2 separate regions of the Homo sapiens genome follow, and region 1 is linked to region 2. Evidence: fine-mapped expression QTL. A gene starts in region 2. The other region holds a variant in brackets. All regions are shown on one strand. Distances are between the middles of the regions. Region 1 holds the start of BIN2 (bridging integrator 2). Region 2 holds the start of CELA1 (chymotrypsin like elastase 1).

Region 1 (12,715 bases), 17 kb before region 2:
ACCTACCAATCTCTTTTGAGCCTTGTTTCCTTATTTCTAAAACAGAGATGCTAATAACCTGCTTAAAGTGTTGAATAGATGAAGGGAGATGACATCGGTAGAATGTTGGCTCCATAAAGGGAGAGAGAATCACTTTGTCTTTTTTTTTTTTGAGACAGAGTTTTGCTCTTGTTGCACAAGTTGGAGTGCAATGGCGCGATCTCGGCTCACGGCAACCTCCGCCTCCCAGGTTCAAGCGATTCTCCTGCCTCAGCCTCCTGAGTAGCTGGGATTACAGGCATGCGCCACCACACCCGGCTGATTTTGTATTTTTAGTAGAGACGGGGTTTCTCCATGTTGGTCAGGCTGGTCTCGAACTCCCGACCTCAGGAGATCCACCTGCCTGGGCCTCCCAAAGTGCTGGGATTACAGGCGTGAGCCACTGCACCCCGCTGATAATCACTTTCTTATATCCCTGTCTCTGGTCCATAATAGGCGCTTGATATTTGACACATTTCACTATTTGACACATTAGCTATTACTTATTACTCAGAAGATTACATCCAACTGCTTGCAGAAAAAGCAAAAAGTGTTGCAAGGAATTCTTTCATTTTAGTGCAAATTTCTCCCTCTTTATCTTGGTCTCAATAACTTCCCAAGACTCAAGGACTGGCTTCAGGCTGACGGAGCTGAGCTCCCTTCCGGCATCCCAGGCCATTCCCACCTTATCGAAGTTCAACCTTTGCCTACCCTTTTGTCTAGTCTAGGTTCAGAATATCTTGTTTTCTTCATCAGCTGGGAATTCCTCATGGCAGATTTGAGTTTGCTCCTCTTTCTCTACTTCCTCAGGGTTCAGGCCAGAAGAACCTGAGAGACTGGTTCTGTCTTTGGGAAGTATTTGACTCTGAGTCTAATGTGACAGCTTTTCAATTTAGTGTTCTTACCATATTGAGTTTCATCAAGAACATCAACCCTCTCATTTTACAGGTGCAAGATCTGAAGCCCAGAGCAGGACATTATTTAGCCAAGGTTTGGAGTCTATGCTTACAAAGGAGTGAAAGCCCAAAGCAAGGTTTTAGTGTTGACGAGAGGCTAGATGAAGACAGAAGATGCAAGAGTGAAATACAATCAATTGTATGTCTTTTATTTTTATGTATTTATTTTTATTTTTTGAGACAGAGTCTCCCTCTGCTTGAGTGTGGTGTGGTGTGATCACTGCTCACTGCAGTCTTGATCTCCTGGGCTCAAGCAGTCCTCCCACCTTGGCCTCCCAAAGTGCTGGGATTACAGGAGTGAGCCACTGTGCCTGGCTGGTATGTCTTTTTAAAATTACTATCATTCATGAGTGTTTTGTCTTTTAGGGTTTTTTTTTTTTTCAACCACAGTGTGGCCTTCTCTCCAGTACCTCCTGCTCGCCCACACTGTTTCGAGCTAGACCTTCCCATAGGCCCTGCTCTCGGGTCTACCAGATTTGTAAGTCTTCAGAGAGGCTGAAACTAGGATCAAGGTGAAGTTAGGGTAAGTGAAGTAACGAAGTCTGGCTACACGAACTCTTTCCCTTTTCCTCCTCTCTTTCACATGACCTCAAATGATAGAAAATAACCTCCCTTCCATTGTGGTCTCTTAAAGTCAGGAGCTACATCTACATTCCATCAGTTTTCTGCTGATAAATCAACTCGGGAGAGCTGGTTGCCTTTAAGCCTTCCCAGGGCTCAAAGCAGTGCTCCACTTTTAGAAGATAATAGGGATATTTCAGTTGGTAAGCAGAGCTGTTCATCCAAATGCTTCTAAGTCCATCAGCTCTTAGAAAACCAAAACTTCTCCGTTGTAGAAGGCAGGTTGGGCTTAATAAAGAGAGAGAGAAAAAAAGGAAAACCGAAACTCTATCTCAGGTCCTTCTTGTCTTTCTTCCCTCGCTCTTTCTTCTGGCTGACATGTCTTCCCAAACCGCCTTGTCTACTAGAGGGTTGGTAGGTGGAGAGCAGAGGCTCAGGTTAGAAGCAAAGAAAATATTCTGTACAGGTAGAAACAAAAATGCCATCAAAATGTGTAGAGAATGTCCCCACAATTTAGATTGCCAAGCAAGTAATAGATGGGCAGCCCACCTAAGTGCCAGTGCTGGAGCAGGGCTACCTGACACTAACCAAGGACACACTCTGAACACAGATGTGGTTCATCACCCTGGGAGGTGTACTCCCCAACGCCAAAGGGAGGGTAGAAGAAGCAGATTTGGGCTCCTGCTTACGTCAGCTGAAACACCACCCAGAGGCCAGGCAGGGTCAGGTAGGGGGAGAACTATGCAGGATTATTCTAAGCCTTTGGTGGGGGGTGCCTGCTGGCATCCGCTGCATCGCTGTTTTTGGGGAAATTGCCCTCTATGGAAAATTACCCTCCAATTTCATCATCTGTAAAATACCAATTTTGGATTGCTAGCACAAAATTTGATACAAAGGTGGCCACCACCATCACTTCCTTTCTTTCACCTTTTCTGGGTCAGCCTGAGGGTTGTCGAAGGTTCTGCCCAGAGACTGTTGTCTCCCCAGCTTCCCTTATCCTTGCCCAAGATCGGGTGGCGGTCTCCGACCTCTCTCCAATCTGCCAGTTTTCATGGAAGCCCACTCCTCGCTCCCGTTTCCCTGGGAGAGCGGGAGACCCTTCTCGTCAGCCCAGACCCTTCGGGGCCCCTGAGCACCCTGCCCGCCCCTCCTGCCCGGCCGGGCTCGGCCTCGGCCTCGGCTCCCTGTGGGCCAGACAGACAGCGAGGCCCGGCCACCTACCTTCTCCTGGGCCCTGCTAAACTTCTTCTGCACCTGCTTGGCGAAGAGGCCGGCCGCGCCGCCTGCCTTGCCCTCTGCCATCCTGCCAACTCCCTGGGGGCCGCCGCCCTGGCCCCGCGCCCTGTGGTTTTCTGAGGCCCCCGAGGAGGAAGTGCGGGCTCCCGGCATGCCTCGCATCCGGCCCCAGCCCTGAGCCACCTCAGGCCGCCCCTGGCCAGCCCTGAGGCCCGCCCCTCAGCCCACCACTGTCAGCTGGAGCAGGCCGGCTCGGAGGGGCGGGCCCGGGGCCTACCCTCAGGCAGCGCTCGCTCGAGGCCAGCTTCCGAGCTCCAACCCCTGCCCGAAACCTCGGCCTCACTGAACCAGGTCCTCAGTGGTGGGCCCACACTCACTCGCTCCGGAAAGCCAGTTCCCATCACGCTGAGCACTGCAAAGCAACTGCCACCGCAGGGTAGAAAATGATGTGGGTTCCACTCAGCGAGAGGACCTACCATATCGAAAACACGTTTAGGTTCTCTGAGTATGCATGCGAAGCCGCCATGTACACTGCGTTTCTTGCTCCAGGTAGGCTCTAAGCCTGGAACTGGTAGGGATAGAGTGCAGAAAGCAGGCAGGACACCCGAGCCGGGCTTGAAAGAGAGAAACAGGCCGGGCGCGGTGGCTCACGCCTGTAATCCTAGCACTTTGGGAGGCCGAGGCGGGTGGATCGCCTGAGGTTAGGAGATCAGCCTGACCAATACGGTGAAACCGCGTCGCTACTAAAAATACAAAAATTAGCTGGGTGTGGTGGCGCACGCCTGCAGTCCCAGCTACTCGAGAGGATGACGCAGGAGAATTGTTTGAACCCGGGAGGCAGAGGTTGCAGTGAGCCGAAATCGCGCCACTGCATTCCAGCCTGGGCGACAGAGCGACAGTTCGTCTCAAATAAATAAATAAATAAATAAATAAATAAATAAATAAATGAGGAACAACTAAGCTGGAGATAGAAACAGGGTAGGGGGCTGGTTCTTAGGCAAGAGAATGATCACATTGAAAAAAGGCTGAGGAGGATAGTATGGACGCCCGTGCTGAGCATGAGGAGCAAGTTTTTCTAGTTGGAGTACAGTGTACTGGATGGAGGCAGAATGTGAACACAGACACAGATTGTGCAAATTGGGGTGCGGCTGTTGAGATGACAACTATTGTTTCTTTAGGGAGAAGTTCTCCAAAAAATTCCTCCCTGACCTGTTTGAGGGGATAGCTTGAGATTAGGACACTAGGTGTGGAGGAACCACGTACTCAGATTTTACAGTGCAGGTTAAAATTTCCTCAAGGCAGGGAAGAAGGTCAAAATAACACTTCCTAAGGAGTGGAGGGGGAAGATAGGGCCTGACACAAAATTAGAGGCCCTTGTATGCTACTGTGTTCCTCTTCTTTCTCCAAAACAATCATTACTGCACTCAAGGTCAACTGTGTACCAGGCATTGCTGGGTGTTCTGAAACAAGGATGAATAAAATGCAGTCCCTGACCTTAAGATGCTTAATGAAGTCTGGCCGGGCACCACGGCTCACACCTGTAATCCCAACACTTTAGGAGGCTGAGGCAGGCAGATTGCTTGAGCCCAGGAGTTTGAGACTAGCCTGCGCAACATAGCAAGACCTTCTCTCTGCTAAAAATACAAAAATTAATTGGGCGTGGTGGCACACACCTGTAGTCCCAGCTATCAGGGAGGCTGAGGTGGGAGGATCACCCGAGCCAAGGGAGGTGGAGGCTGCAGTGAGCCCTGATGGTGCCACTGCATTCCAGCCTGGGCAAAGCGTGAGGCCCTTTCTCAACCAATAAAGAATAAGTATTAATAAATAAGTACATAAATAAAGATGCTTAAAGTCTGGAAGTGGAGATAGGTGGGTAATCAGGTGATTCTAATGTAATGTGCTTAATTTATTTGTAGAGATGGATACAAAATTTTCTGGGAATAGGTGATTAGGGTTTGTTTGTTTGTTTGTTTGTTTGGAGACAGGGTCTTGCTTTGTTGCCAGGCTGGAGTGCAGCAGTGCCATCAGGGCTCACTGCAGCCTCTACCTCCCAGGCCCAAGTGATGGTCTCACCTCAGCCTCCTGAGTAGCTGGGACTAAGGTGCGTGCATGCCACCACTCCTGGCTACCCAGGCTGATCTGGAACTCTTGAGCTCAAGCAATCCACC[C/G]GCCTCAGCCTCCCAAAGGGCTGGGATTACAGGTGTGAACCACCTTGCCCTGCCAGGCGATTAGGGTTTATTCTGGATGTTAGCTTTGGTGATGCCCTGGAAGAGGCAGGGTGATGAAAATAGAAGGACTTGATATTGGATGGGGAGAAGTGGGGAGAAGCATGGAGAATAGCAGTACTGCGGGAACACTGAGAGTAGATGGCAATGCTAACAGGTGTGTCACTGGCAGAAGGAGGCCAGTACCTGTGTCCCTGCCAGGACTACATGGCATCCTCAGCAATGCAACCCAGCCACTGTCTCCTAAGAAACTCTGTTTAGTGCCAATATCTTGCAAACTGAAATTGATGGTCACCAAATCATGTAGTGTTAGAGAAGAAACAACCCTTAGAAGTTAATTAGATAGGGAAATTGAGTCACAGAAAGGGCTGATGACTTGACCACAGCCACCCAGCTCCTCAGTGGTGGAACTGGGATGGGAACAGACTCAGCCTCTTATAGCACATGGAGTGTTCTAGAGGCCTCTGCTGAGCCTGTCAATTCCAGGGTCTGTCTCAGCCAGTTTCTCCTTCTGTAATGTTTAATACCCTAGTCCCTCTTGTCTGGTCTTAAGTGATTGACATGAAAAGCTGCTTCTCATCCTTTTTAGCCTTCCCCTTTCAGTTCCCCCTTTGCTTTCTCATAGGCCACTCTAACAGACTGAGCCCTGGCCAGGATACAGCAGAATTATCAGTTTCCCAGTTCTCTGTGGTTTATAGAACCCTGGATCCGGTTGCCTAATTTTAGTCCCAGCCTTAAAGTGCTGATTCACACTTAGCTTGAGGCCCTATGTTGTTGTTGCCTCTTCCTTTCTGTTCTGCCTCTTCCCCTCAACCCTTTCGTTTCTTTGTTTAGTATCTTCTCTTCTCTCCTTTTTTCTATTCTTAGCTCTCCAGTCTCCATTGTTGTTTTTTTTTTTTTTTGAGACAGAATCTCACTTCATTGCCCAGGCTGGAATGCAGTGGCGCAATCTTGGCTCACTGCGGCCTCCACCTCCCAGGCCCAAGCGATTTTCTCCAGTCTCCTTTCTAATTTGTCACTTTCTTAGTCTGCTGGTATCTGCCCTGCCTCCTAATCTTATACTTCTATCTCTGGTGTATCCTAGTAGTTGCCATCACCCAGAAACTTGGAGTGGGCGTTCGTTTTAGGCACTAAAGGGGGAAACAAAAGAAGGATGAACCCACAGTATACCTGGGAAAGACAGGGCACATTCAGTCACTCAGGAAGTTTTTTGTTTGTTTGTTTTGAGACGGAGTCTTGCTTTGTTGCCCAGGCTAGAGTGCAGTGGCACGATCTCAGCTCACTGCAACCTCCACCTCCTGGGTTCAAGTAGTTTTCCTGCCTCAGCCTCTTGAGTAGCTGGGATTCCAGGCGCCTGCCACTGTGCCCAGCTAATTTTTGTATTTTTAGTAGACACGAGGATTCACCATCTTGGCCAGGCTAGTCTCGAATTCCTGACCTCGTTATCCACCCACCTCGGCCTCCCAAAGTGCTGGGATTACAGGCGTGAGCCACCGTACCCAGCCCACTCGGGAACCTTTTTTTTTTTTTTTTTTTTTTGAGATGGTCTTTCGCTCTTGTTGCCCAGGATGGAGTGCAACGGTGCAATCTTGGCTCATTGCAACCTCCACCTCCCGGGTTCAAGCGATTCTCCTGCCTCAGCCTCCCAAGTAGCTCTGTGCCTTCGAATATAGCAAATATCCACAGGAATAGGGCAGATGGACAGATTAGTGGATACATAGATCCTAAAGTAACCCAAAATGGATAACATAAAGCTACTCCCACTGGGTTTGTGTTGTGGACTGGTAGAGGTAGCAGCAAAGGGAAGACCCAGCCTGCAGATGTGGTGAAATCCAACTTGGATCCTATAACTGCATTTCTTCTAAATCAGTGGTCCCCAACCTTTTTGGCACCAGGGACCCGTTTCGTGGAAGACAATTTTCCACGAACCGGGGTGGGGGATGGTTTCGAGATGATTCAAGGGCATTACATTTATTGTGTACTACATTTCTATTATTATTACACTGTAATATATAGTGAACTAATTATACAACTCACCATAATGTAGAATCAGTGGGATCCCTGAGCTTGTTTTCCTGCAACTAGACGGTCCTGTCTGGGGGTGATGGGAGACAGTGACAGATCATCAGGCATAGGGACCCCTGCTCTGGAGGGCTTAATTACAAATAGACACAGTATGATAATGTATATCTAGTTTTATTTGCTTTTCTATCAATGGCTCAATAGTCTTTCAGAATGTGTTTTACTTTTTGATCGCAAGTCCTACTGCAGATCTAAGAACCATTTTGGGAAGGTCGTTGGACTCAGGAAAATGTTCAGTTGGAGGCGATGACCTGAAGGAAAGACAGTTATGTCCACAGTCAGTAACTCCTGCCTACCTCCTTTCTTGTTTCCTCAGGGCTCCCAGTTAAGTATGGTTTTGTACTGGGTTTATGGGAAGTTGACAGGGTGTGGGGACAGGGAGGCAGGAAGTCAGCCTCAACTGTGATAGGACAGCTCAGTGTTATAGGTACATACCCAGAATACAGTGGCAAAGACAGACCTTGAAATGGCCGTGAGCCAAGATTAATACACAAGGCTCCAGAATGTGTTTGAAGGGTGGAGGGCACAGTGAAATGTGTTGTGTGGCCTTTCCACCAGGTCAGTGTAGGCAGAGCCTCACCTAACTCTCAAGCATTATTTAAGGTGGTAAAACCTGTCAAAAATTAGAGCAGGCCGGGCGCTGTGGCTCATGCCTGTAATCCCAGCACTTTGGGTGGCAGGTGGATCACTTGAGGTCAGGAGTTCAAGACCAGCCTGACCAACATGGTGAAACCCGATCTCTACTAAAAATACAAAAAAAATTTACCAGGTTTGGTGGTGCATGCCTATAATCCCAACTACTTGGGAGGCTGAAGCAGGAGAATCACTTGAACCCAGGAGGCAGAGGCTGCAGTGAGTCGAGATCAAGCCACTGCACTCCAGCCTGGGTGACACAGTGAGACTCTGTCTCAAAAAAAAAAAAAAAAAAAAGTTAGAGCAAATTATCATAATGTCCTTAGAAAGACGTTGTGGGAGAGGAAGTCGGTGCCTCCTTCCCTTGCCTAGGAGTACGCAGGCCTTTCTGAACCTGTTTTTCCCTGGGCTTTGACTTAGGAAGGCACTGATATGTCCCTGATTCAGATTTGATGTTGCCACTGTCTTACCCTAAGCAATAAACAATACAGTGAAGTCTGCTCTGTGGGTATGTGGAGGGGAGGGAATTCAGGATGGCAGCCTTATTGAAGGAAAGTACACCGTGGAAGGAAGGGAAGGGAGTAAACACATGAATGTGGTAAGGAAGATGACGGCTTGCCCAGTCCATCCAACGTTTGTTCCCCAACCCAGCCAGTGCGTAGGTCTCCAGGTGACCCCATTTCAACCCATCATTTGAGAGGACTCACATTATTTATCCAGGAGATGTAAGCAGAGACCTGGGTGAAGACTGTAGGCTTCCTGGAGACATTACAGCCCCGGCTGGACACAAAGCTGGTCACTCCATGGACAGAATACTTGCCATTCACCAAGCAATGGAGGGGGCCCCCAGAGTCACCCTGCAGGGAGGAGAAACAGAATCCTAAAACTCCAGATCTTCGGGCTTTTGCTTGCACTCCCCCCGCCCCCGTCTCTGGTTGTGAAATTCTGTACGGTTTTAAAGCTCCAATGCAAATCTCCACCTCCTTCATGTCCCCACAATCAAAATGAATCTCTTCTTCCTTTCTAAACAACCACAATACTTCTTCTCTTTTGCTGCACTTATTTCATGTTCTGCCTTGTATTTTGGTTTCATAATTTGTTTGTACCTCCTCACACATGTCTATGAGCTTCCTGAGACAAAAACTCTTACCAAGATCTTTCCTCTCCACAATGCTAGCATAGAACTTTAAATATCTAAAGTTCAATCGCTTTTATTGGCTTAAATTGAACCTGGGGTGGCAAAAATAGGGCATTCTAATAATTTCTTTATCCCCAGCATTTAGACCAATGGGTATAATTAGACCAAGTATTTAGACTTGGTAGTCAAAACATGCTAAACTAAACTGGAATGAAGAGGAAAGTGATGTATTAGGTCACATGCTCAACTGGGAACCTGGGTTTATGGAATATGATCTTGCCTCCCTTCTTACTCAGCTTCTAGAATGCCAGGTCCATAATGCCACACATAAAATGGGAAGATACTTCTCTGGAAAAACTGAACAGTCCAAGAGGAAAGACCTAAAGATACTGACATTGGAGGTCCTCCACTAAAATGGCCTAGCCAGATCACCTGACAGAGAATCCACTATTGATGAACCCCATCTAAGGCTCAGAGCTACCAATCAGCCCACCCACTCTGGGTAAAAATACCACCCCCACTCTGAAATAAAAGCAGATGGTTAAGGATCACTAAACATCTAAAGAATGCCTCTAGCCGGGCCCAGTGACTCATGCCTGTAATCCCAGCACTTTGGGAGGCTGAGGCGGGCGGATCACGAGGTCAGGAGATCGAGACCATCCTGGCTAACACGGTGAAACCCCATCTCTACTAAAAATACAAAAAATTAGCCGGGCGTGGTGGTGGGCGCCTGTAGTCCCAGCTACTCGGGAGGCTGAGGCAGGAGAATGGCGTGAACCCGGGAGGCAGAGCTTGCAGTGAGCCAAGATGGCGCCACTGGGCTCCAGCCTGGGCGACAGAGTGAGACTCTGTCTCAAAAAAAAAAAAAAAAAAGGAATTCATCTAATATAAAAATAAAGATTGAAACAAAGAAACAAGGAGCTAAATAAAAAAATGAAGGCAACCAAGACTATGCAGGGAGAAGAAAACAAGCAATAAAACCATAACTAATAGGCTGGGCATGGTGGCTCCACACCTGTAATCCCAGCACTTTGGGAGGCTGAGGCGGGCGGATCACCTGAGGTCAGGAGTTCAAGACTAGGCCAACACAGTGAAACCCCTAAAACTCTATTAAAAATACAAAAATTAGCCGGGCGTGGTGGTACATGCCTGTAATCCCAGTTACTCAGGAGGCTGAGGCAGGAGAATCGCTTGAACCCAGGAGCTGGAGGTTGTAGTGAGCTGAGATTGCACCACTGCACTTCAGCCTGGGCGACAGAGCGAGACTCCGTCTCAAAACAAACACACAAACAAAAAACATGACTAATATGCATCCATGATACAAGAACGGCATACTACTAAACAACATTCAGACAGCAAAAAGAGCCTTTGGAAATTACAGATTTGATAGATTTAGAAATGAGAGACTGGAAGAGTTGGAACATAAGATAGAACAAACAAGATATAGAGAAAACAAGAGGACCAGCTTAGGAGGCAAACATGTGAATAACAGAAATTCTAGAAAGAGAAAAGTGAAAATAGAGTGGGAGGAAATCAACAAATAAACAACATTTTCTGGATCAAAGGTCTGGAGTTTCCGGGAAAACCCACCCATTAAGTATCCCTCACAACGAATGCAAATAGATCCACATAGACCACTAGGTCAAGAGAAGATGATATAGGTCACTTAACAAATTAGTGGAGTGTGTGGGGTTGAATTAATGAAAAACTGACTATATTAAGCAAATGAAAAAGACAATTTTTAACAGACATTGAAAAAATTGAAAAAGTTGTGCAGCAAGGGCTGACCTTGGTGGTTTATGACTGTAATCCCAGCACTTTGGGAGGCTGAGGCAGGAGGACTGCTTAAGCTAAAGCCAGGAGTTTGAGACCAGCCTGGGGTACAAACCGAGACCCCCATCTCTATTAAAATTTTAAAAAATCAGCTGAGTGTGGTGGCATGTGCCTGTAGTCCTGGCTACTCAGGAGATTGAGGTGGGAGGATTTCTTGAGCCCAGAAATTCAAGGCTGCAGTGAGCTGTGATTGTGCTACTGCACTCCAGCCTGGGTGACAGAGTAAGATCCTGTCTCTTTAAAAAAAAAAAAAAAAAGTTATGCAGCAAATGAAAAGTAAACCTAGAATATATTACATGATTTTGTTGTAAATAGCATTTTATATAATCATAGTAAATGCCGAATGTTGATCTAACCAAAATATTTTGAGAGGTTGAGATGGTGATCAGAAAATGTCATGCTTGGAGGGCAGGTATGTATATATAAAAAATAAAGAGAATCACATCTGCCATAATGTCAACACAAAAATAGCAGTGTAAGTATATAATTTTAAAGATGTAGACACCAAAAGAATCAGCTGAAGAGTTGAAAGTGGCCTCCCATGGGGTGGGAGAACTAGAGTAGCTATTCTTTTCCATTATTGAGCCCCATAATCTTATTTGCCAATTTAAGCTTCAATAAAAAGTAAAACTTGGGGCCAGGTGTGGTGGCTTACACCTGTAATCCCAGCACTTTGGGAAGCCGAGGTGGGTGGATCACGTGACGCCAGGAGTTTGAGACCAGCCTGGCCAACATAGCGAAACCCCGACTCTACTAAAAATACAAAAAAAATTAGCCAGGTATGGTGGCTCATGCCTGTCATCCCAGCTACTGAGGAGGCTGAGGCACAAGAACCCAGGAGGAGGAGGTTGCAGTGAGCTGAGATCACGCTACCGTACTCCAGCCTGGGCAACAGAGCAAGACTCTGTCTCAAAAACAAACAAACAAAAGTAAAACTTAAAAAAAACTAGGGAAAGAGACCAAAATTTCAAACTGGGATAATTCTGTGTGTGTTTGTTTTGAGATGGAGTCTCGCTCTGTCGTCCAGGCTGGAGTGCAGTAGTGCCATTTCGGCTCACTGCAACCACCACCTCCCAGGTTCAGGTGATTCTCCTGCCTCAGCCGCCTGAGTAGCTGGGAGTATAGATGTGTAGCCCCACTCCCCGTTAATTTTTTTTTTTTTTTGAGACTGAGTTTCGCTCTTGTTGCCCAGGCTGGAGTGTAATGGCATGATCTCAGCTCACTGCCACTTCCGCCTCCTAGGTTCAAGCAGTTCTCCTGCCTCAGCCTCCCAAGTAGCTGGGATTACAGGCATAAACCACCACACCTGGCTAATTTTGCATTTTTAGTAGAGATGGAGTTTCACTATGTTGGTCAGGCTGGTCTTGAACTCCTGACCTCAGGTGATCCACCCACTGTGGCCTCCCAAAGTGCTGGGATTACAGACATGAGCCACTGAGCCCGACTGTTTTTTTTTTGTTTTTTTTTTTTTAAGACAGAGCCTCTGCCCAGGCTGGAGTGCAGTGGTATGATCATAGCTCACCACAGTCCCAATCTCCTGGGCTCAAGCAGTCCTCCCACTTCAGTATTCCAAGTAGCTGGGACCACAGTGTGCGCCACCTCGCCCGGCTAATTTTTTAAATTTTTGCAGAGACAGGGTCTCCCTATGTTGCTGAGGCTAATCTCTAACTCCTGAGTTTAAGTGATCCTCCCACCTCAGCCTCCCAAAGTGCTGGGATTATAGGCATGAGCCACCACGCCCAGTCAAGGGTAATTACTTTAAAGTGGAACTACCTGTACTCCACCCTAACTGCTATTTAGGAAACGATGTTTTCTTTAGATTATTGTACTCAAAACAAAACAATCTCTTCCACCAAAATTCTATCAGGGATTTGAGAGTATTTCAGGGGCTAGAGGAATGATAGATAAATGAATTGTATATAATACTATTGTCTTGTGCTAATTGACCCGAAAAGAGACCAAGCCTCAGGAGAGAGGGAGGGTGTGGCTGAGGATTTTAGAGCAGAAGGAAGAGTTGGAAAAGAAATCAGTGG
Region 2 (15,969 bases):
GTTCTCAGTAGGTATCTCTAGCCCAGCTCTTCCCCCAGGCCCCACTTTTTCTATCTAATTTCTTGGCCAGGCGTGGTGGCTCATGCCTGTAATCCCAGCACTTTGGGAGGCTGAGGTCAGGAGTTCGAGACTTAGCCTGGCCAACATGGGGAAACCCCGTCTCTACTAAAAATACAAAAATTAGCCAGGTGTTGTGGCACATGCCTGTAATCCCGGCTACTTAGGAACCTGAGGTAGTAGAATCACTTGAGCCCGTGAGACAGAGGGGGCAGTGAGCTGAGATCGCGCTACTGCACTCCAGCCTGGGTGAGAGAGGGAGACTCCGTCTCAAACAAAACAAAAAAAACACCAAATTTCTTACTGGTTGCTATACCTGAATGTCCCACTGGGATCTCAGACAAAGGTTGTCCAGAACCAAACTCATCATCTTCTCTCTCAAACTCTGTAAATCTTGTCTCAGGGCAACAGTGCCCTCCCCCAAATCACTTAAACCAGATGCTTGGCTGTTGTTCCAGATCCTCCTCCTTCCCTCCTCCGGTTCCTATCACCACTGCCTTAATTCAGGCCCTCAAATTTCTTGCTTAGATCATTGCAATAGCCCTCTAGGCAATCTCCCTGCCTCTCTTGTCTTCTTCAAAAACATGCCTAAAGAACAATTCTAAAAGGTGAATCTGGTTGTGCTAGTCTCCTGTTTAGAAGTCTTTGATGGCTTCCCAATGCCCAAGAGATAAGGTTCATGTCCCCAAGCCTGGCATTTGAAGCCCTGAGTTGTACAGCTCTTGCTTGCCTCTCTAGTCTTACCTCCTGACATTTCCTAGTATGGTGGTAGCTTCTATTCTAGCCCACGGGTCAGCAAACCTCTTCTGTTAAGGGCCAAACAGTACATATTTCAGGCTTTGCAGGCCATACCGTCTTGATTGCAACTACTTTGTGTTGTACTACAAAAGCAGCCATAGGCTGGGCATGGTGCCTCACGCCTATAATCCCAGCACTCCAGGAGGCCAAGGCAGGAGGATTGCTTGAGGCCAGGAGTTCAAGACCAGCCTGGGCATCATAGTGAAACCTTGTCACTACCAAAAACAAAACAAAATTAGCTGGGTGTGATGGCATGTGCCTGTGATCCTAGCTACTTGGGAGGCTGAGGTGGGAGGATCATTTGAGCCCAGGAAGTTGAGGCTGCAGTGAGCCAAGATGGCACCACTGCACTCCAGCCTGAGTGACAGAGCAAGACCTTATCTCTTCAAAAAAAAAAAAAAAAAAAAAAAGCAGCCATAAACAGTTTGTAAATGAGCAACTGTGACTGTGTTCCAGTGAAATGTTATTTATGGGCACTGAAATTTTATATATTCTTCATGTGTCATGACATATTATTATTCTGATTTTTTTTCCTTACCATTAATAAATGTAATAATTCCAGCCTGGGCAACATGGTGAAACCCTGTCTCTACAAAAAATACAAAAAATTAGCTGGGTATGGTGGTATGTGCCTGTAGTCCCAGCTACTAGGGAGGCTGAGGTGGGAAAATCACTTGAGCCTGGGAGGCAGAGGTTACAAGTGAACCATGATGGTACAACTGAACTCCAGCCTGGGCAACAGAGTGAGACGCTGTCTCAAAAAAAAAACAAATATATATATATATGTATATGGCCAGGCGCGGTGGCTCATGCCTGTAATCCCAGCACTTTGGGAGGCAGAGGCAGGTGGATCACGAGGTCAGGAGTCCGAGACCAGCCAGTTCGAGACCAGCCTTGCAAACATGGTGAAATCCTGTCTCTACTAAAAATACAAAAATTAGCAGATGTGGTGGTGCGTGCCTGTAATCCCAGCTACTCGGGAGGCTGAGGCAGAAGAATTGCTTGAACCCGGGAGGCAGAGGTTTCAGTGAGCTGAGATTGCGCCACTGCACTCCAGTCTGGGCGACAGAGTGAGACTCCATCTCAGGAAAAAAAAAAAACATACACACACACACACACACACACACACACACACATACACATACGCATACATATATATATATATATATAGAAATCAAAATGTAATAACTGTTCTAAGCTCATGGGCCATATAAAACAAGCAGTGAGCTAGATTCGGCTTGTGGACCTCCAGCCGCTGCTCTACTCTAGCCTTAGGGAATGCCCCATAATTCTGTATGTACTCTAGGTTGTTTCTTGGCCCCCTGCCTTTATTCATGCCGTTCCCTCCCTCTGAATGTCTTTTCTCCTTTTTGCCTGGCCTATTCCTATTTGCCCCTCAGGACCCACTACAAATTCTAGTTTCTTGGGGAAGGAAAGTCTTTTCTGGCCCCAGTAGGTAGAGGTAGGTACCTACCCTTGGGCTTCCATATCACCTGTGCACATCCTGATTATTAACACTTAACCACATTGTATTACAATGTTCTATTGTATGTCTGTGCCTCTGGTTTCTTTACTTGACACTGTTTGATCCATCTTTGTAACCTTAGCACTTAGCACAATGCCTGGCATATAGTAGATATATAATGAATAGTTGTTAAACTGCATTAAGAAATCTGGGGTGGGGCATGGTGGCTCACGCCTGTATTCCCAGCACTTTGGGAGGCCAATGTGGGAGGATCACTTGAGCCCTGGAGTCTGAGACCAGCCTGGGCCACAAAGCAAGACCCCATCTCTATATTAAAATAATAATAATAAAAAAAGCTTAAAAAGAGAAATCTGTAAGATAGTTTATGGCTGATTGATCTTGTCAAAATAGAGGAAGGTTATATTTGTTATATATAAGCTATTATAAAATTATTTTGTGCACTTTCCCCTATCAAACTCACCTGTACATACTGCCAGAAATATCACTGGGGTAAAGGGATGGTGGTAGAGGAACTGCAAGAGAAGTAGGACTGATAGGTAAGAGGGAGCAGGGTACTGCTTATACAGCATCACAACCACCTGTCCAGGCTCAGCTGCATCGCTGCCATTAAAAAATCTAGGTAACAAATTTGGCTGGGCATGGTGGCTCACGCCTGTAGTCCCAGCACTTTGGGAGGCCAAGGCGGGTGGATCACCTGAGGTCGGGAGTTCGAGATCAGCCTGAGCAACATGGAGAAACCCTGTCTCTACTAAAAATACAAAAAATTAGCCGGGCGTGGTGGTGCATGCCTGTAATCCCAGCTACTTGGGAGGCTGAGGCAGGAGAATTGCTTGAACCCAGAGGCGGAGGTTGCAGTGAGCCGAGATCGTCCCATTGCACTCCAGTCTGGGCAACAAGAGCAAAACTCCATCTCAAAAAAAAAATCTAGGTAACAAATTCTAAGAACACACACATATACCAACAACAACATATAAATGTTGGGCCACGTACAAACTTTGAAGTGAGGGCATCGAGCAAGATCAATTTTAAGGTTCCTTTCAACTTTGAGTTTCTGCATGTGTAGAATTACCAGCACAGGATCATTCTCACTTAGACGCCAGAGTAGAAAATTGAGTCTGTGTAGGACTAAGAGTAAGTGTCGAATAGGGAGGTGAGGAAGAGGGGTGGAGGGATAGGCAGAGAGTGGCGGGACCTGGGGTGGGACCCCCTGCAAATGTTCACCTGGCATCCAGAGCGAACTCCATCTCCACCAGCACACACCATGGTGTTCTTCACAGTGGAGCCCCAGTAGGAGGAGCTGGAGCAGATGGCGTAGTCCACAGAGGGCAGGTAAGCCTGCTGCAGGGTCTGGGCCAGCTGCCCATTGGCTGAACAGGACACACGGCATTGGCAGTCAGCTCCAGATGTGGTCCAGCAGAAAAACCTTCCACCCCTGCCACACCTTCCCAAACTCTCGTGAAAGCTGAGCTCAGGGCAAACTCCTTCTCTCTCCCTGTTGCATGTGGTGGATCCTCTGTCTTCTCTCTTTATATGGCCGCACAGGACCCTTCCCTCAGGGAGGCAGCCTTGCTTACTGTACCTAGGCTCCAAGCCACCAACCCTACTCCTGCTTCTTTTCACTCGTGGATAACTTAGTTGCACCATGGAATGGCCTTATTTGTGGATGATTTATCTGTCTGTTCTGTTTGCTCCTGCAAGCTCCATGGAGCAGAAATGGGATTGTGCATGCTTGTTTCCATTTCTTTCTTTCTTTTTTTTTTTTTTTTTTGAGATGGAGTTTCACTCTTGTTGCCCAGGCTGGAGTGCAATGGAGCAATCTCGGCTCACCACAACCTCCGCCTCCCAGGTTCAAGAGATTCTCCTGCCTCAGCCTGCCGAGTAGCTGGGATTAAAGGCATGCACCACCATGCCTGGCTAATTTTGTATTTTTAGTAGAGATGGGGTTTCTCCATGTTGGTCAGGCTTAAGCGATCCTCCTTCCTCAGCCTCCTGAGTACCTGGGACTACAGACTCATGCCACCACACTCAGCTAAGGATCCTTAATTTCTCTGGACCTTGGTTTCCTCATGTATAAAATGAAGGGCTGGCTGGCTGCAGTGGCACATGCCTGTAATCCCAGCACTTTGGGAGGCCAAGGTGGGAGGATTTCTTAAGCTCAGGAGTTCGAGGCCAGCCTAGGCAATATAGCGAGATCCCATCTCTACAAAAAAATTTAAAAATTAGCTGAGTGTGGTGGTACATGCCTATAGTCTCAGCTACTCAGGAGGCTGAGGTGGGAGGATCACTTGAGCCCAGGAAGTGGAGGTTGCAGCCTGGGTGACAGAGCAAAACCCTGTCTCTAAATAAATAAATAAATTTTAAAAATGAGGGGCTGGTAAAAAAAATTCTCTGATAAAGTCTTTTTTTGTTCTAAGAGTCCATGAATCTGTCAACTACTTCACAGCCCATTCTTAGCTTGATATAATGCATCAGTTATTGTATCTATGGTTCTTTTAGCTCCTGGTCTCTGGCCATAAGCACCTAGGACCACAGAAAAAGGTGTCTTAGAAGCTCAGCTACCTAATCAAGATCCCCGTGGTGGATTGTGCCAATGTAGGCAACTTACTCTTGGTCTTGCCCCAGCCTGTGATGTAGCAGGGACTGTTGTTAGCCAGGATGGCTCCCTCCTGGGGCAGAACACCCAGCTGGACATAGCTATTGAGGGTAACGCTCTGGGCCAGGCGCAGCAGGGCGATGTCATAGCTGCAGGAGAAAAGGAGACTGCTCACTCATGGGATCAGCTCTTCCCTGAGGTCAGCATATACACTGGCCCTCTCTAAGCATTTGTATCCCCGTGGAATTGGAAAGTGACGACTTTGAAGAAGGACGGGGCTCACTTGCTAAGCCTCAAACTAGAGCAATTACAATTTAACATGTAAACATTCTATGTTTAACAGCAGCATCTGCTGGTGGGACATTGGTATTGCAGCCTAGCTCTGACCTTTGCAACCCCGGGAAGTAGAGAATGGGGGAATCTGAAAGGAGCAGAGTGGCATGATCTTGGTGGCAGAGTTCTCAAACAAGAAAAATGTAAAAGGCTGAGTGGCTCTACAAGCTCAGTAGAATATCCCAATTCCTTGAACCCACCCCCACCTGCACATGCTATAGAATTGACCACCGTTTTAATTATTTATTTTCCAGAAGTTTACAACTCAACTTGCAATTTTCCCGTGTAAGATTCACTTTAGGAAATTTACTTTTGCTGATGGAGTCTATTCTATAATGTGAATAATAAATAATGATAAAACCCCCCATAGAAACAGAACATTAAAATCTGCAGAGAATGGTAATCCACTGTGCAAACCAGCCTGGATCCAACAAATCCTAAAGGTCTTCAAAGACTCTCAAGCCCTCCAGAACGTCAGTTCTCTTTTTCTTATGAGACAGAGTCTCACTCTGTCACCCAGGCTGGAGTGCAGTGGCGCGATCTCAGCTCACTGCACCCTCTTCCTCCTGGGTTCAAGTGATTCTCCTGTAATCAAGCGATTACAGGCACATGCCACCATGCCTGGCTAATTTTTTTTTTTTTGTATTTTTAGTACAGACAGGGTTTCACCATATTGGTCAGGCTGGTCTCAAACTCCTGACCTCAGGTGATCCGCCTGCCTTGGCTTCCCAAAGTGTTGGGATTATAGGCATGAGCCACTGTGCCTGGCTCAGAACCTAAATTCTCAAAGTCCTCCTGGACGAATGAGCCAGCTCATTGCTCCCTCTAGGACATGGTGCCTTCTCTCAGGCTCAGCTGGGCTCCTTAACTAAAGGCCAGGCCAGGAGCCACGGACCAGGTTTCAGGCCATGCAATCCCTCTAGCCCTCTGAAAGAACAGGTGAAGGCAGCCAGTTGTTGGCTAGTCAGGCCTCACCGCCCAGCCCAGGGCCAGCTTGGACTTGCTCCTACCCGGCAGCCACGTTATCGCTGTTCCAGTATGGATGCACCACGATCTTCTGCACACTCACGTACTGCTCAGTGCCATCATTCTGGCTCAGGTTATGGTCTCCAGCCACCACGCGGAAAGTCTTCTGGCTGGCGTGAGAGAAGGAATCCCTGAGTCATCCAGGGGACTCAAACCTTCTCTACCCCACTTAGAGAAAAGTTGAAAAACCATCTTTTTTTTTAATCATTATTATTTAGGAAATTTTTTTTTTTTTTTAGAGATGGGGTTTTGCTGTGTTGCCCAGGCTGGCTTCAAACTCCCAGGCTCAAGTGATCCTCCCACCGCAGCTTCCCTAGTAGCTGGGACTACAGGTGTGAGCCACCGTGCCCAGGTTTTGTTTATTATTTTAGGACAGGAACCCATCTTATCTGGTCTAGGCAGAGGAGGGATATAAGACTCTCCAAAATGAGAAAGTAACAAGCTCTTTCATTCCCTAATTGACTAACTTGTGGAAGTGAAAAAAACTACCATCACTTTGATTTTCTCGGTTTAACATCATAGGCTGAATATCTTGTAAACTGGGAGAGGTGTAGTGCGCATAAATGAAATAATGGCTCTCAGCCACCAAGATTTTGAAGGAAGCATAGACTTTTAGGCTAGTTGTTCTTAAAGCGTGGTTCCTGGGCCGCAGCATGAGCATCACCTGGAAACTTGTTAGAAATGCAAATTATCAGGCCTCACCCTGGACCTACCAAATTAGAAACTCTGCTGGATGGGGCCCAGCAATCTGTGCCTTCCAGGTGATTCTGACACATGCTCAAATGTGAAAACCATTGCCCAAGACAAATAGGAAAAAATAGTCACCAGTCAGACATTGACTAGGCACTTACATATTTACTCAATCCTCACAACATTTCTACAAAGTAAATGTTCTTAGCCCACTTTAGAGATAGGAGAATGGGGGCATAGTTGCCCAAGGCTACATAGCTAGAATTTGGTGGAGCAAGATTTGAATTTGAGTCTCCCTGACTCCAAAGTTTGTACTTTCACCATACTACCTCCCTGCAGGCCCTGAACAGGAAAGGAGCCACTGCCCAGTCCCTGAAGTGCTGTCCAGAGAGGGCAAAATTATATCCTCTTTCAGAAGGTCAGCCCCTTCCCCTTCCAGGGGCCCAGGAAAGCTTGTCTTTGTTTTTCTTACTAATCCACGCAGTGAGCAGCTGTCATCACCCAGTTCTGTCTGATAAGGGTCCCTCCACAGGTGTGATACCGGGAACCTCCAGACCGGTACTGGAGGGAAATCTAGATGGGGAGGAAAGAAAGAAGGGATAGGTTGGTGTTTCTCAAATGGTTTTGCCCCAGGTCGGTTGCAGTGGCTCATGCCAGTAATCCCAGAACTTTGGAAGGCTGAGGCAGGAGGATCAGTTGAGCCTAGGAGCTGGAGACCAGCCTGGGCAACATAGTGAGACCTCGCCTCTACAACGTCAAAAATAATTAAATATAAAAGACTTTGCCTCAAACTACATGTCACCTCCTTAAAGTCCTGCTGTCCTTCAAAACATTCTCTTTCTAGGCTAGAGATGGCAAATAGGTTTCATCTGACCTGCCAATTGCTACTGATTGCTTGGTAGTGGCCACCTGGAGTGTGGCATTGATAAGGGGTGTGTAGATGCTTCTGGGGCCAGCAGGAAGGGATGCTCCATCGCTTGGTGATGTTTGCTGTGTACATGGATGGAGGAGTAAAGGCACACAGTGTATTTGGCATTATCTCTCTAGGTTGTTGCAATGGACCTAGAACCCATTGTAACTCCTTTTTTGGAACTCCTTCTACCTCTGTTCTCCCTTAAAGAGGAACTATAGGCCAGGCACCATGGCTCACGCCTGTGATCCTAGCACATTGGGAGGCCAAGGCGGGTGGATCACCAGGTCAGGAGATCAAGACCATCCTGGCCAACATGGTGAAACCCCATCTCTACTAAAAATGCAAAAATTAGTCGGGCGTGGTGGCATGCACCTGTAGTCCCAGCTACTCAGGAGGCTGAGGCAGGAGAATTGCTTGAACCCAGGAGGTGGAGGTTACAGTGAGCTGAGATAGCGTCACTGCACTGCAGCCTGGTGACAGAGCGAGACTCCATCGCCCCCTCTCCTCCCCCAAAAAAGAGGAACTATAGGCAAAGATTTGCTCCATCACCTAAGCCCAACAGGCTTAGGTCTCCAGAGCTGTACCTTTAGTGTTTTCAAGACATCTCCTGTCTCCCCACTTCAGGGACTACTTAGAAATACCAATGGGAGGCCAGGCGCTGTGGCTCATGCCTGTAATCCCAGCACTTTGGGAGGCTGAGGCGGGTGGATCACCTGAGGTCAGGAGTTTGAGACCAGCCTGGCCAACATGGTGAAACCCCGTCTCTACTAAAAATACAAAAATTAGCTGGGCATGGTGACAGGCGCCTGTAATCCCAGCTACTCAGGAGGCTGACGCAGGAGAACTGCTTGAACCCAGGAGGCAGAGTTTGCAGTGAGCCGAGATCATGCCATTGCACTCTAGCCTGGGCAATGAGAGCAAAACTCCATCTCAAAAAAAAAAAAATACCAATAGGATGTTTGTTTTTATCAGTTCATGTCTCTTCTTCTAGCACCTCATGTTATGTAATAGCTCTACTCCTGAAAACTGGGGCTCAGACTTTTATAAGCTAAAACTCTGATTGCAGTGATATCTTCTCAAAGTGTGGATCTTCATCAGTTAATTTGCCAGGTTTACATATTTAGATCACTTAAATCAGGGCCCAGCTGCCCTGTTAGCAAAGTGGAAACTCTAAATAGCCAACTAAGCAGCATGCTGTACGTGTGTGTGTGTGTGTGTGCGCGCACATGCGTGCAAGCATTGTGACACACACAGTGTGGAGTGGTGTGCGTGTGAGTTTCAAGGTATGTGGAGTCCAAGGTGACTGTCTGGCACCCAGTCTTTCTTGCGTGGCACAAGTGCTGTCGCTGAGAATATAAATGTATCTTGTGTTTGGGTGTGTGCCTTGAAGAGGGACTGTGGTTGGTGTATAAATCCCCTCCTCCAAGCCTTTTGCATTTAGAAAACCACCTAAGCCTGATCCCATCCATCTTTAAAATCGAGAACCTAGACAATTGGAGAGCTGCTTGTTGATAGGGACATGCACAAATACACATGATACCTTATGTCATGCACTGAGCTCTTATTTGGGTGGAAGTCTGGGGCTGGGAAGGAACACCCACCTGAGAGGGCCAGGAATTCCTCCCGGCCTCAGTCCCTCCGACTACGCGGGCATTGGTTTCCGGAAGGTCCTGGGTGCTGTGTCCTTTGTGGGGCAGAAGAAAAGTGAGTGATGACTAAGCATGGGGTCAGCCAGGGGTAGGGGTGGGGGGTGGCGATTGTGCTTTGAGGAATGTTAGCCTTGTCTGCAAATTCACAGTTCCTCTCTAACGAATGAGGGGCCCAGCTGTGAGTTCTCTGAGCCCCTTTTGAAAACAGGGGTGCCTGGGTGCCTTCTGTTTCCCCCAGGTGTTCCCAGAACTCCGGCATGCTATGAAGGACCTCTCTCAAACCACCAGGCTAGGCCCCAGAGGCTCCTTGTGGTCTCCTCTTTGCTCAAGATCACCCTTTGGCCTGAAGAGACCCCCCCCCACTCTTTGACCCCCACCAGCCCCCTAATGCTTTGGCAAGATTCTCCAGGGTTCAGGGCCTGCAGTGCACACCCCAGCCAGGCACCTGCTGAGGAAGTCCTCCTGTCAATGGGGGTGGTGGGGAAGCCCAGGGACCCACCCCACTACCAGATGGGGCTTCTCTCTGCTTTGTGGCCCAGGGACCTGCCACCCAGAGGGGCCTGAATAGCCAGTGGCCCTGACCTTTTCTATCTTGGCCTCCAGGAGAGTAAAGGACGCTCTGCAGGCAGAGCGTCCCACCTGCCCTGGGACAGGGTGCTGGCCTGGACTTAGGGAAAATTTGCTGACCTTCCTGCCCAAGTCCCCCTCCCTATAGACCTCAGGCCACATGATCCACTTACCATAAAGGACCAGGGTTGCGACTGGACCATATCCACTTACCATAAAGGACCAGCATGTTGCCGATGGAGTAGACCACTGCCTTCTTGCTTGGACCAAGCCCTCTTTATACTCCTCTTAGCAGCAAAGCTGACTGTCTTCTTGCCAACTGGCAGGGCTGAGGGTGCAAGGCAGGGAAAATCACAAGTGACATGGAAATACAAATGAAAATATTTCTTTTCAAGTAAACTAATGTATCTGTTATTCAAAGACAGAACAAGGCCAGGGCTGAATTAATCATCTGCTTTTAATTGAAAAGCATCCAACAAACTCTTTTTCAGAAATAAGATGGAGAACCAGGGCTGGTTTTTCTCTAAGGGAGCACCCCTTGTCATCCATCACTCTCTCGTTGTCCTCAGTGGCACCATAAATGCAGAGACTTGCCCTGTGCACTAGCAGCTGGAGGCCAGGGGGATAGTGGAAGAGGGGGGAGTGGTTAGCAAGGGCAAGGAAGACACAGCAACTCTCTCTGCCCAAAGAGGGAGATGGCACATGCCCCCAGGATGCAGGCATAGGTGTAAATGCAGACACAAAAGCCAAATAGATGCAGTGGAGATAATTCTGGGGGAGGAAAGTACTGAGAAACAGGCTTGGGCCCTCTCAGATGGAGAGCCAAGAAGGGGCTCCCAGAGGAGAATATGAGGCAGGGTAGAGGAGGGGATCCTTGGGATGTGAAGACAGTCTGAGGGCTATGAGGGTAGATGGAGGGTGGAGGGCAGAGGGAGAACGAGGGTAGGAGCCGAGGTTCCTGCAGGAGATGAAAGGCTTTGTTCATCACAGTTCGTAGAGGAGAGAGAAGGGAGTTGCGGCCGGGCGCGGTGGTTTACGCCTGTAATCCCAGCACTTTGGGAGGCTGAGGCGGGCGGATCACAAGATCAAGAGATCGAGACCATCCTGGCCAACATGGCGAAACCCCGTCTACTAAAAATACAAAAATTGGCCGGGCGCGGTGGCTCATGCCTGTAATCCCAGCACTTTGGGAGTCGGAGGCGGGCGGATCACGAGGTCAGGAGATTGAGACTACTCTGGCTAACACAGTGAAACCCCGTCTCTACTAAAAAAATACAAAAAATTAGCTGGGCGTGGTGGCAGGCGCCTGTAGTCCCAGCTCCTCGGGAGGCGCAGGCAGGAGAATGGCGTGAGCCCGGGAGGCGGAGCTTGCAGTGAGCCGAGATCGCGCCACTGCACTCCAACCTGGGCGACAGAGCGAGACTCCATCTAAAAAAAAACAAAAACAAAATACAAAAATTAGCTGGGCATGGTGGTGCGCTTCTGCAGTCCCAGCTAATCTGGAGGCTGAGGCAGGAGAATCGCTTCAACCTGGGAAGCGGAGGTTGCTGCACTCCAGCCTGGAGACAGAGCAAGACTCTGTCTCAAAATAAATAAATAAATAAATAAATAAATAAATAAATAAATAAATAAATAGAGAGAGAAAAGAGTTGCAATGTGCCTTGAGGTGGGCAGAGGACCCTTGGGTTGGCCACAAAATGATCAGAGCCACTGCAGGCTCCAGAGCAGAGGACTGTGGGTGCAGCAGTCATGGTAGCAACGCATGGGGTTTGGAATTAGGCAGGGAGAAGCCAGGAACCTAGACAGAAGCAGGACCATCACCTGCCCACCCAGGGCTTTTGTTGCCTAAACACTCCAGAATCCAAGCTTCATGGCTGCAGGGGTGGGAGAAACCTGGAAAATGCTCTTTGAAGGAATCTGCACAGTCACTTTTTCAGTGTCTAGAGCTGTTCAGAGGAGTTGCACTTTGATGCTCAGATAACCTGAAGAGCTTGCTCTCCAGCCTGCCCTCCAGCATTCTGGCACACTCAGGGAAGAGGGGTGAGCTGCGCTAGGGAACCCGGGGCCTCTTTGGTCATTCTCCTCCCGCTTCCCTGCTTCCTCTGGCCTCTAGCCCCAGGATGAGGAGTCCAAGAGGAGGCTTGAGGGCCTCCTGAAGGTTACCTCTTTACATCACAGCAGGGCCAGATCACCTGAGGTCAGGAGTTCCAGACCAGCCTGGCCAACATGGTGAAATCCCGTCTCTACTGAAAATACAAAAATTAGCCAGGCGTTGTGGTGTAGTCCCTGTGCTTGGGAGCTGTAATCCCAGCTCCTTGGGAAGCTGTGGCAGGGAGAGTTGCTTGAACCCTGGAGGTGGAGGTTGCAGTGAGCCGAGATTGTGCCACTGCACTCCAGCCTGGGCAACAGAGCAAGACTCCATCTCAAAAAAAAAAAAAAAAAAATCTTACTCTTAGGGTTAGGCATAGACAATGGCTTAAATTTTTTCTTTTTTTAAGACAGGGTCTCATTCTGTTGCCCATGCTAGAGTGCAGTGGCATGATCTCAACTCACTGCAACCTCCATCTTCTGGGCTCAAGCGATCCTCCCACCTCAGCCCCTCAAGTAGCTGGGACTACAGGTGCCAGCCACCATGCCCAGCTAATTTTTGTATTTTTTGTAGAGACGAGGTTTCACCATGTTGCCCAAGCTAGTCTCAAACTCCTGAGCTCAAGTGATTCACCCACCTCAGCCTCCCCAAGTACTGGGATTGCAGGCATGAGCCACCCGCCCAGCCAGACAATGACTTAAATTTTGAGGCATTGCATTTCTTCTGACATTGCATACCAATTCTAGGAATGAATTCTTTTGAGATAAACACTGGTCGGGCATGGTGGCTCATGTTTGTAATCTCAGCAATTTGGGAAGCCAAGGCGGGAGGACTGCTTGAGGCCAGAAGTTTGGTATCAGCCTGGGCAACATAATGAGACCTTGTCTCTACAAAACATGAAAAAAACATGGTGGCGCATGCCTGTAGTCCCATTACTTGGGAGGCTGAGGTGGGAGGATCCCTTGAGCATGGGAGGTCGAGGCTGCAGTGAGCCATGATTGTGTCACTGCACTCCAGCCTGGGTGACAAAACAAGACCCAGTCTCAAAACAAAACAAAACAAAAAAACAGGCAGAAAAATAAATGTTCGAGGTTGTGGGTTACAGTATAGTTTGTCACAAAGCTTGTTGCAAAATTGGAAAAAAGCTAAGTATTCATCAGTAGAGGAAGACTGAATAAATTGGGTTTAACCCTGCTATGGAATACTATATAGCTTTATTATTTTTTTGAAACAGAGTCTCTCTCTGTCACCCAGGCTGGTGTGCAGTGGCACGATCACAAATTACTGCAGCCTTGACTTTCTGGGCTCCAGCAATCCTCCCACCTGAGCCTCCCAAGTAGCAAATTTCACTTTTTTAAACCTCACTTTTCTAGATCACTTGACTTTTCTCCACAATATTACTTTAAAAAAAACAAAACAAAACAAAATGGAGTCTCTCTGTGTTGCCCAGGCTGAAGTGCAGTGGCACAATCTTGGCTCACTGCAACCTCCACCTCCCAGGTTCAAGCGATTCTCCTGCCTCAACCTTGCGAGTAGCTGGGATTACAGGTGCCCACCACCACGCCCAGCTAATTTTTGTATTTTTAGTAAAGACGGGGTTTCGATATGTTGGCCAGGCTGGCACAGTATTACTTTGGTAATTAAAAATAAGAATAAATTCTGGGACATCTAGCTATTTGTGGCAATGGCCCCAGTACTCTTCATGTGGGAAACAGATCCCCAGAGAGGCCTAGCTCTTTAATGCTAGAGTGAGAGACTCCTAGAGCCGGGAGATAGTAGCACAGGGCTAGCAGCAGGGTTTTAAGAGGTAGGGGCCTTAGGTTAGCTGAGAGTGGTCAGAGGGGTGGGTTTTAAGGAAGAATACGGGTGTTGTTAGGGCCAGGCCAGGCTTGACTAAGGAAAATGCCATGAAGAAGCTAGTTTCTTGTTTGTTTGTTTGTTTTTTTGAGACAGAGTCTCACTCGGTCACCCAGGCTGAAACACAATCTCAGCTCACTGCAACCTCTGCCTCCCAGGCTCAAGCGATTCTTGTGCCTCAGCCTCCCGAGTAGCTGGGATTACAGACGCCTGCCACCACGTCTGGCTAACTTTTGTATTTTTAGTACAGACTGGGTTTCGCCATGTTGGCCAGGCTGGTCTTGAACTCCTGACCTCAAGTGATCTGCCCGCCTCGGCTTCTGAAAGTGCTGGGATTACAGTTGTCAGACATTGGTGCCTGGCCAAAGCTAGTTTCTTGAGCCTTCCCACCACTCCCATCAGTGCCTTCTCCCTCTTCTCCACCACCTCCCTTCCCTAGTCCTCCCCTCATCCCTGAACCCAGACCTCCTCTCTAGACACAGCCTGTGTCTCCCTCCTGCTGCATCTCCCACTCCCTGCGAGTAGCTCTTGGCTGACTGTGCCTGGGAAGTGCTATGCTATTTGGGGGCAGGTGGAACCTTCTTGACACAGCTGGGCACCTTGGTTGGGCTACATCATATGATTAGGCTGGGGAGCTGTTGGGTGATACCATAGACAGTATGAGGGATACTGGGATCCACGTTTGGATATTTAATGCAACCAAGAATAAGGCTAGGGTTAGGCTCCACGACTCCCTGTGGCTTACCGGACCTACCAAAGCCTCTCTCAACTGGGCCCCAACCCACTCTTGTACGGGGCTGAGTTACCCAGTAGGCACAGCAGGTGCAGTGCCCAGGGCCCATAGAAATGTTTTAGCTTCTTTTAAAACCAGAAGAAATAAAGTAAATCCAATCAGCCTGGATTACATTCATCTTTATACCAACATAGTCATAACATTAATTTTTTTTTGAATGGAGCAAGAGCTCCGTGAAGGCTAAAGTGCCTAGGGCCCCTGAAATTCATGATGTAACTCTGATCTTCCAGCTTCTACACCAGTCACTCCCTCACCCCAATGTCCTCTGGGTTTCTCAGACCCACTGGGGCCACATGTCCTCTGTGGCTTTGCTCCTGCCAGGCTGCTGCCTGTGTAACAACTCTGCTTATTGAGCCCTTCCCATCTGAGGACTCATCTTCCGAGGTCTTAGGTCAAACATTGCCATCTTTGTGAGGCCTTATCTGATTCCCTAAGTGGAAGGAATTGCTCCTTCTAACTCATCCAGCACCTCTTGGAGCATCTCCAGGCTTGCTATGATTTGCTTACATTTAGCGTGTGAGTTCCACGGGGACAGGACCTCGTTTGACGTCTCACGTCTCCACGTGCTTGACACAATACATAAGCTAGATTTAGGGCCAGAGAATGTTTGGGGACATGAGACAGTGGCTGTAACAGAACTTTTCAGATGTGTGTGGTTCTTCATAGCCCAAATCAACTGATTCAGCTAAGGGACAACACAGGTAAGAGAACACAACGCGAGTTTCCTTGACCAATGCCAGAAAACCTTTATTTCCACTGAGACCTCTCATCCAATTCTCTTCTTTCCGGGAACTTTTTCCCTTCCCTACTCCAGGTCGTACCCTGGCCACTCCTTTCCTTTTGGCTGGCCAATGTCTCCTCTGTAGGCTCCAGAAGGCTCTCAGGGATGTAGGCGGCCTCCCGCAGGGTTGAGTTGCAATGGGAACAAAGACAGCTGTGGTCCCATAGCACCCTCATCTGGTGACATCCTGCTACTGACAGTCAAAAGAAGCCTTCCCAGATGAAATTTTAGTCCTCTGCGCAGCCATGCTCTTCTTCCAGCAAAAGAGCCATGTGCAGTCGGGTCTGCTCCCCATGGGGGCTTTGATGTGGGCCCAGCAGTGGATCAGCCTTCCAGA

The links. PIP is the estimated chance that this variant, and not a neighbour inherited with it, causes the effect.
Region 1: its variant is fine-mapped to the expression of CELA1 in lung (TOPMed, PIP 0.95).

Annotation. Positions count from the first base shown.
Region 1 is chr12:51,321,266-51,333,980 of GRCh38, forward strand. BIN2 (bridging integrator 2) reads right to left here and starts at 2,909. Exons shown (of 13, transcript NM_016293.4): 1 at 2,757-2,909. The coding sequence starts at 2,837. CELA1 (chymotrypsin like elastase 1) reads right to left here. Exons shown (of 8, transcript NM_001971.6): 7 at 8,419-8,568; 8 at 7,177-7,329. The coding sequence ends at 7,312. LOC105369767 (a long non-coding RNA gene) reads right to left here and starts at 2,743. Exons shown (of 2, transcript XR_944957.3): 1 at 2,463-2,743; 2 at 1,103-1,938. RefSeq lists an enhancer at 2,435-2,624 and silencers at 2,655-3,144, 5,840-6,134. The variant C/G (reference allele first, on the strand shown) is at 4,940.
Region 2 is chr12:51,336,298-51,352,266 of GRCh38, forward strand. It overlaps CELA1 (chymotrypsin like elastase 1), which reads right to left and starts at 10,382. Exons shown (of 8, transcript NM_001971.6): 1 at 10,326-10,382; 2 at 9,498-9,580; 3 at 7,456-7,556; 4 at 6,278-6,403; 5 at 4,947-5,083; 6 at 3,563-3,708. The coding sequence starts at 10,341. It overlaps GALNT6 (polypeptide N-acetylgalactosaminyltransferase 6), which reads right to left. Exons shown (of 12, transcript NM_007210.4): 12 at 14,955-15,969.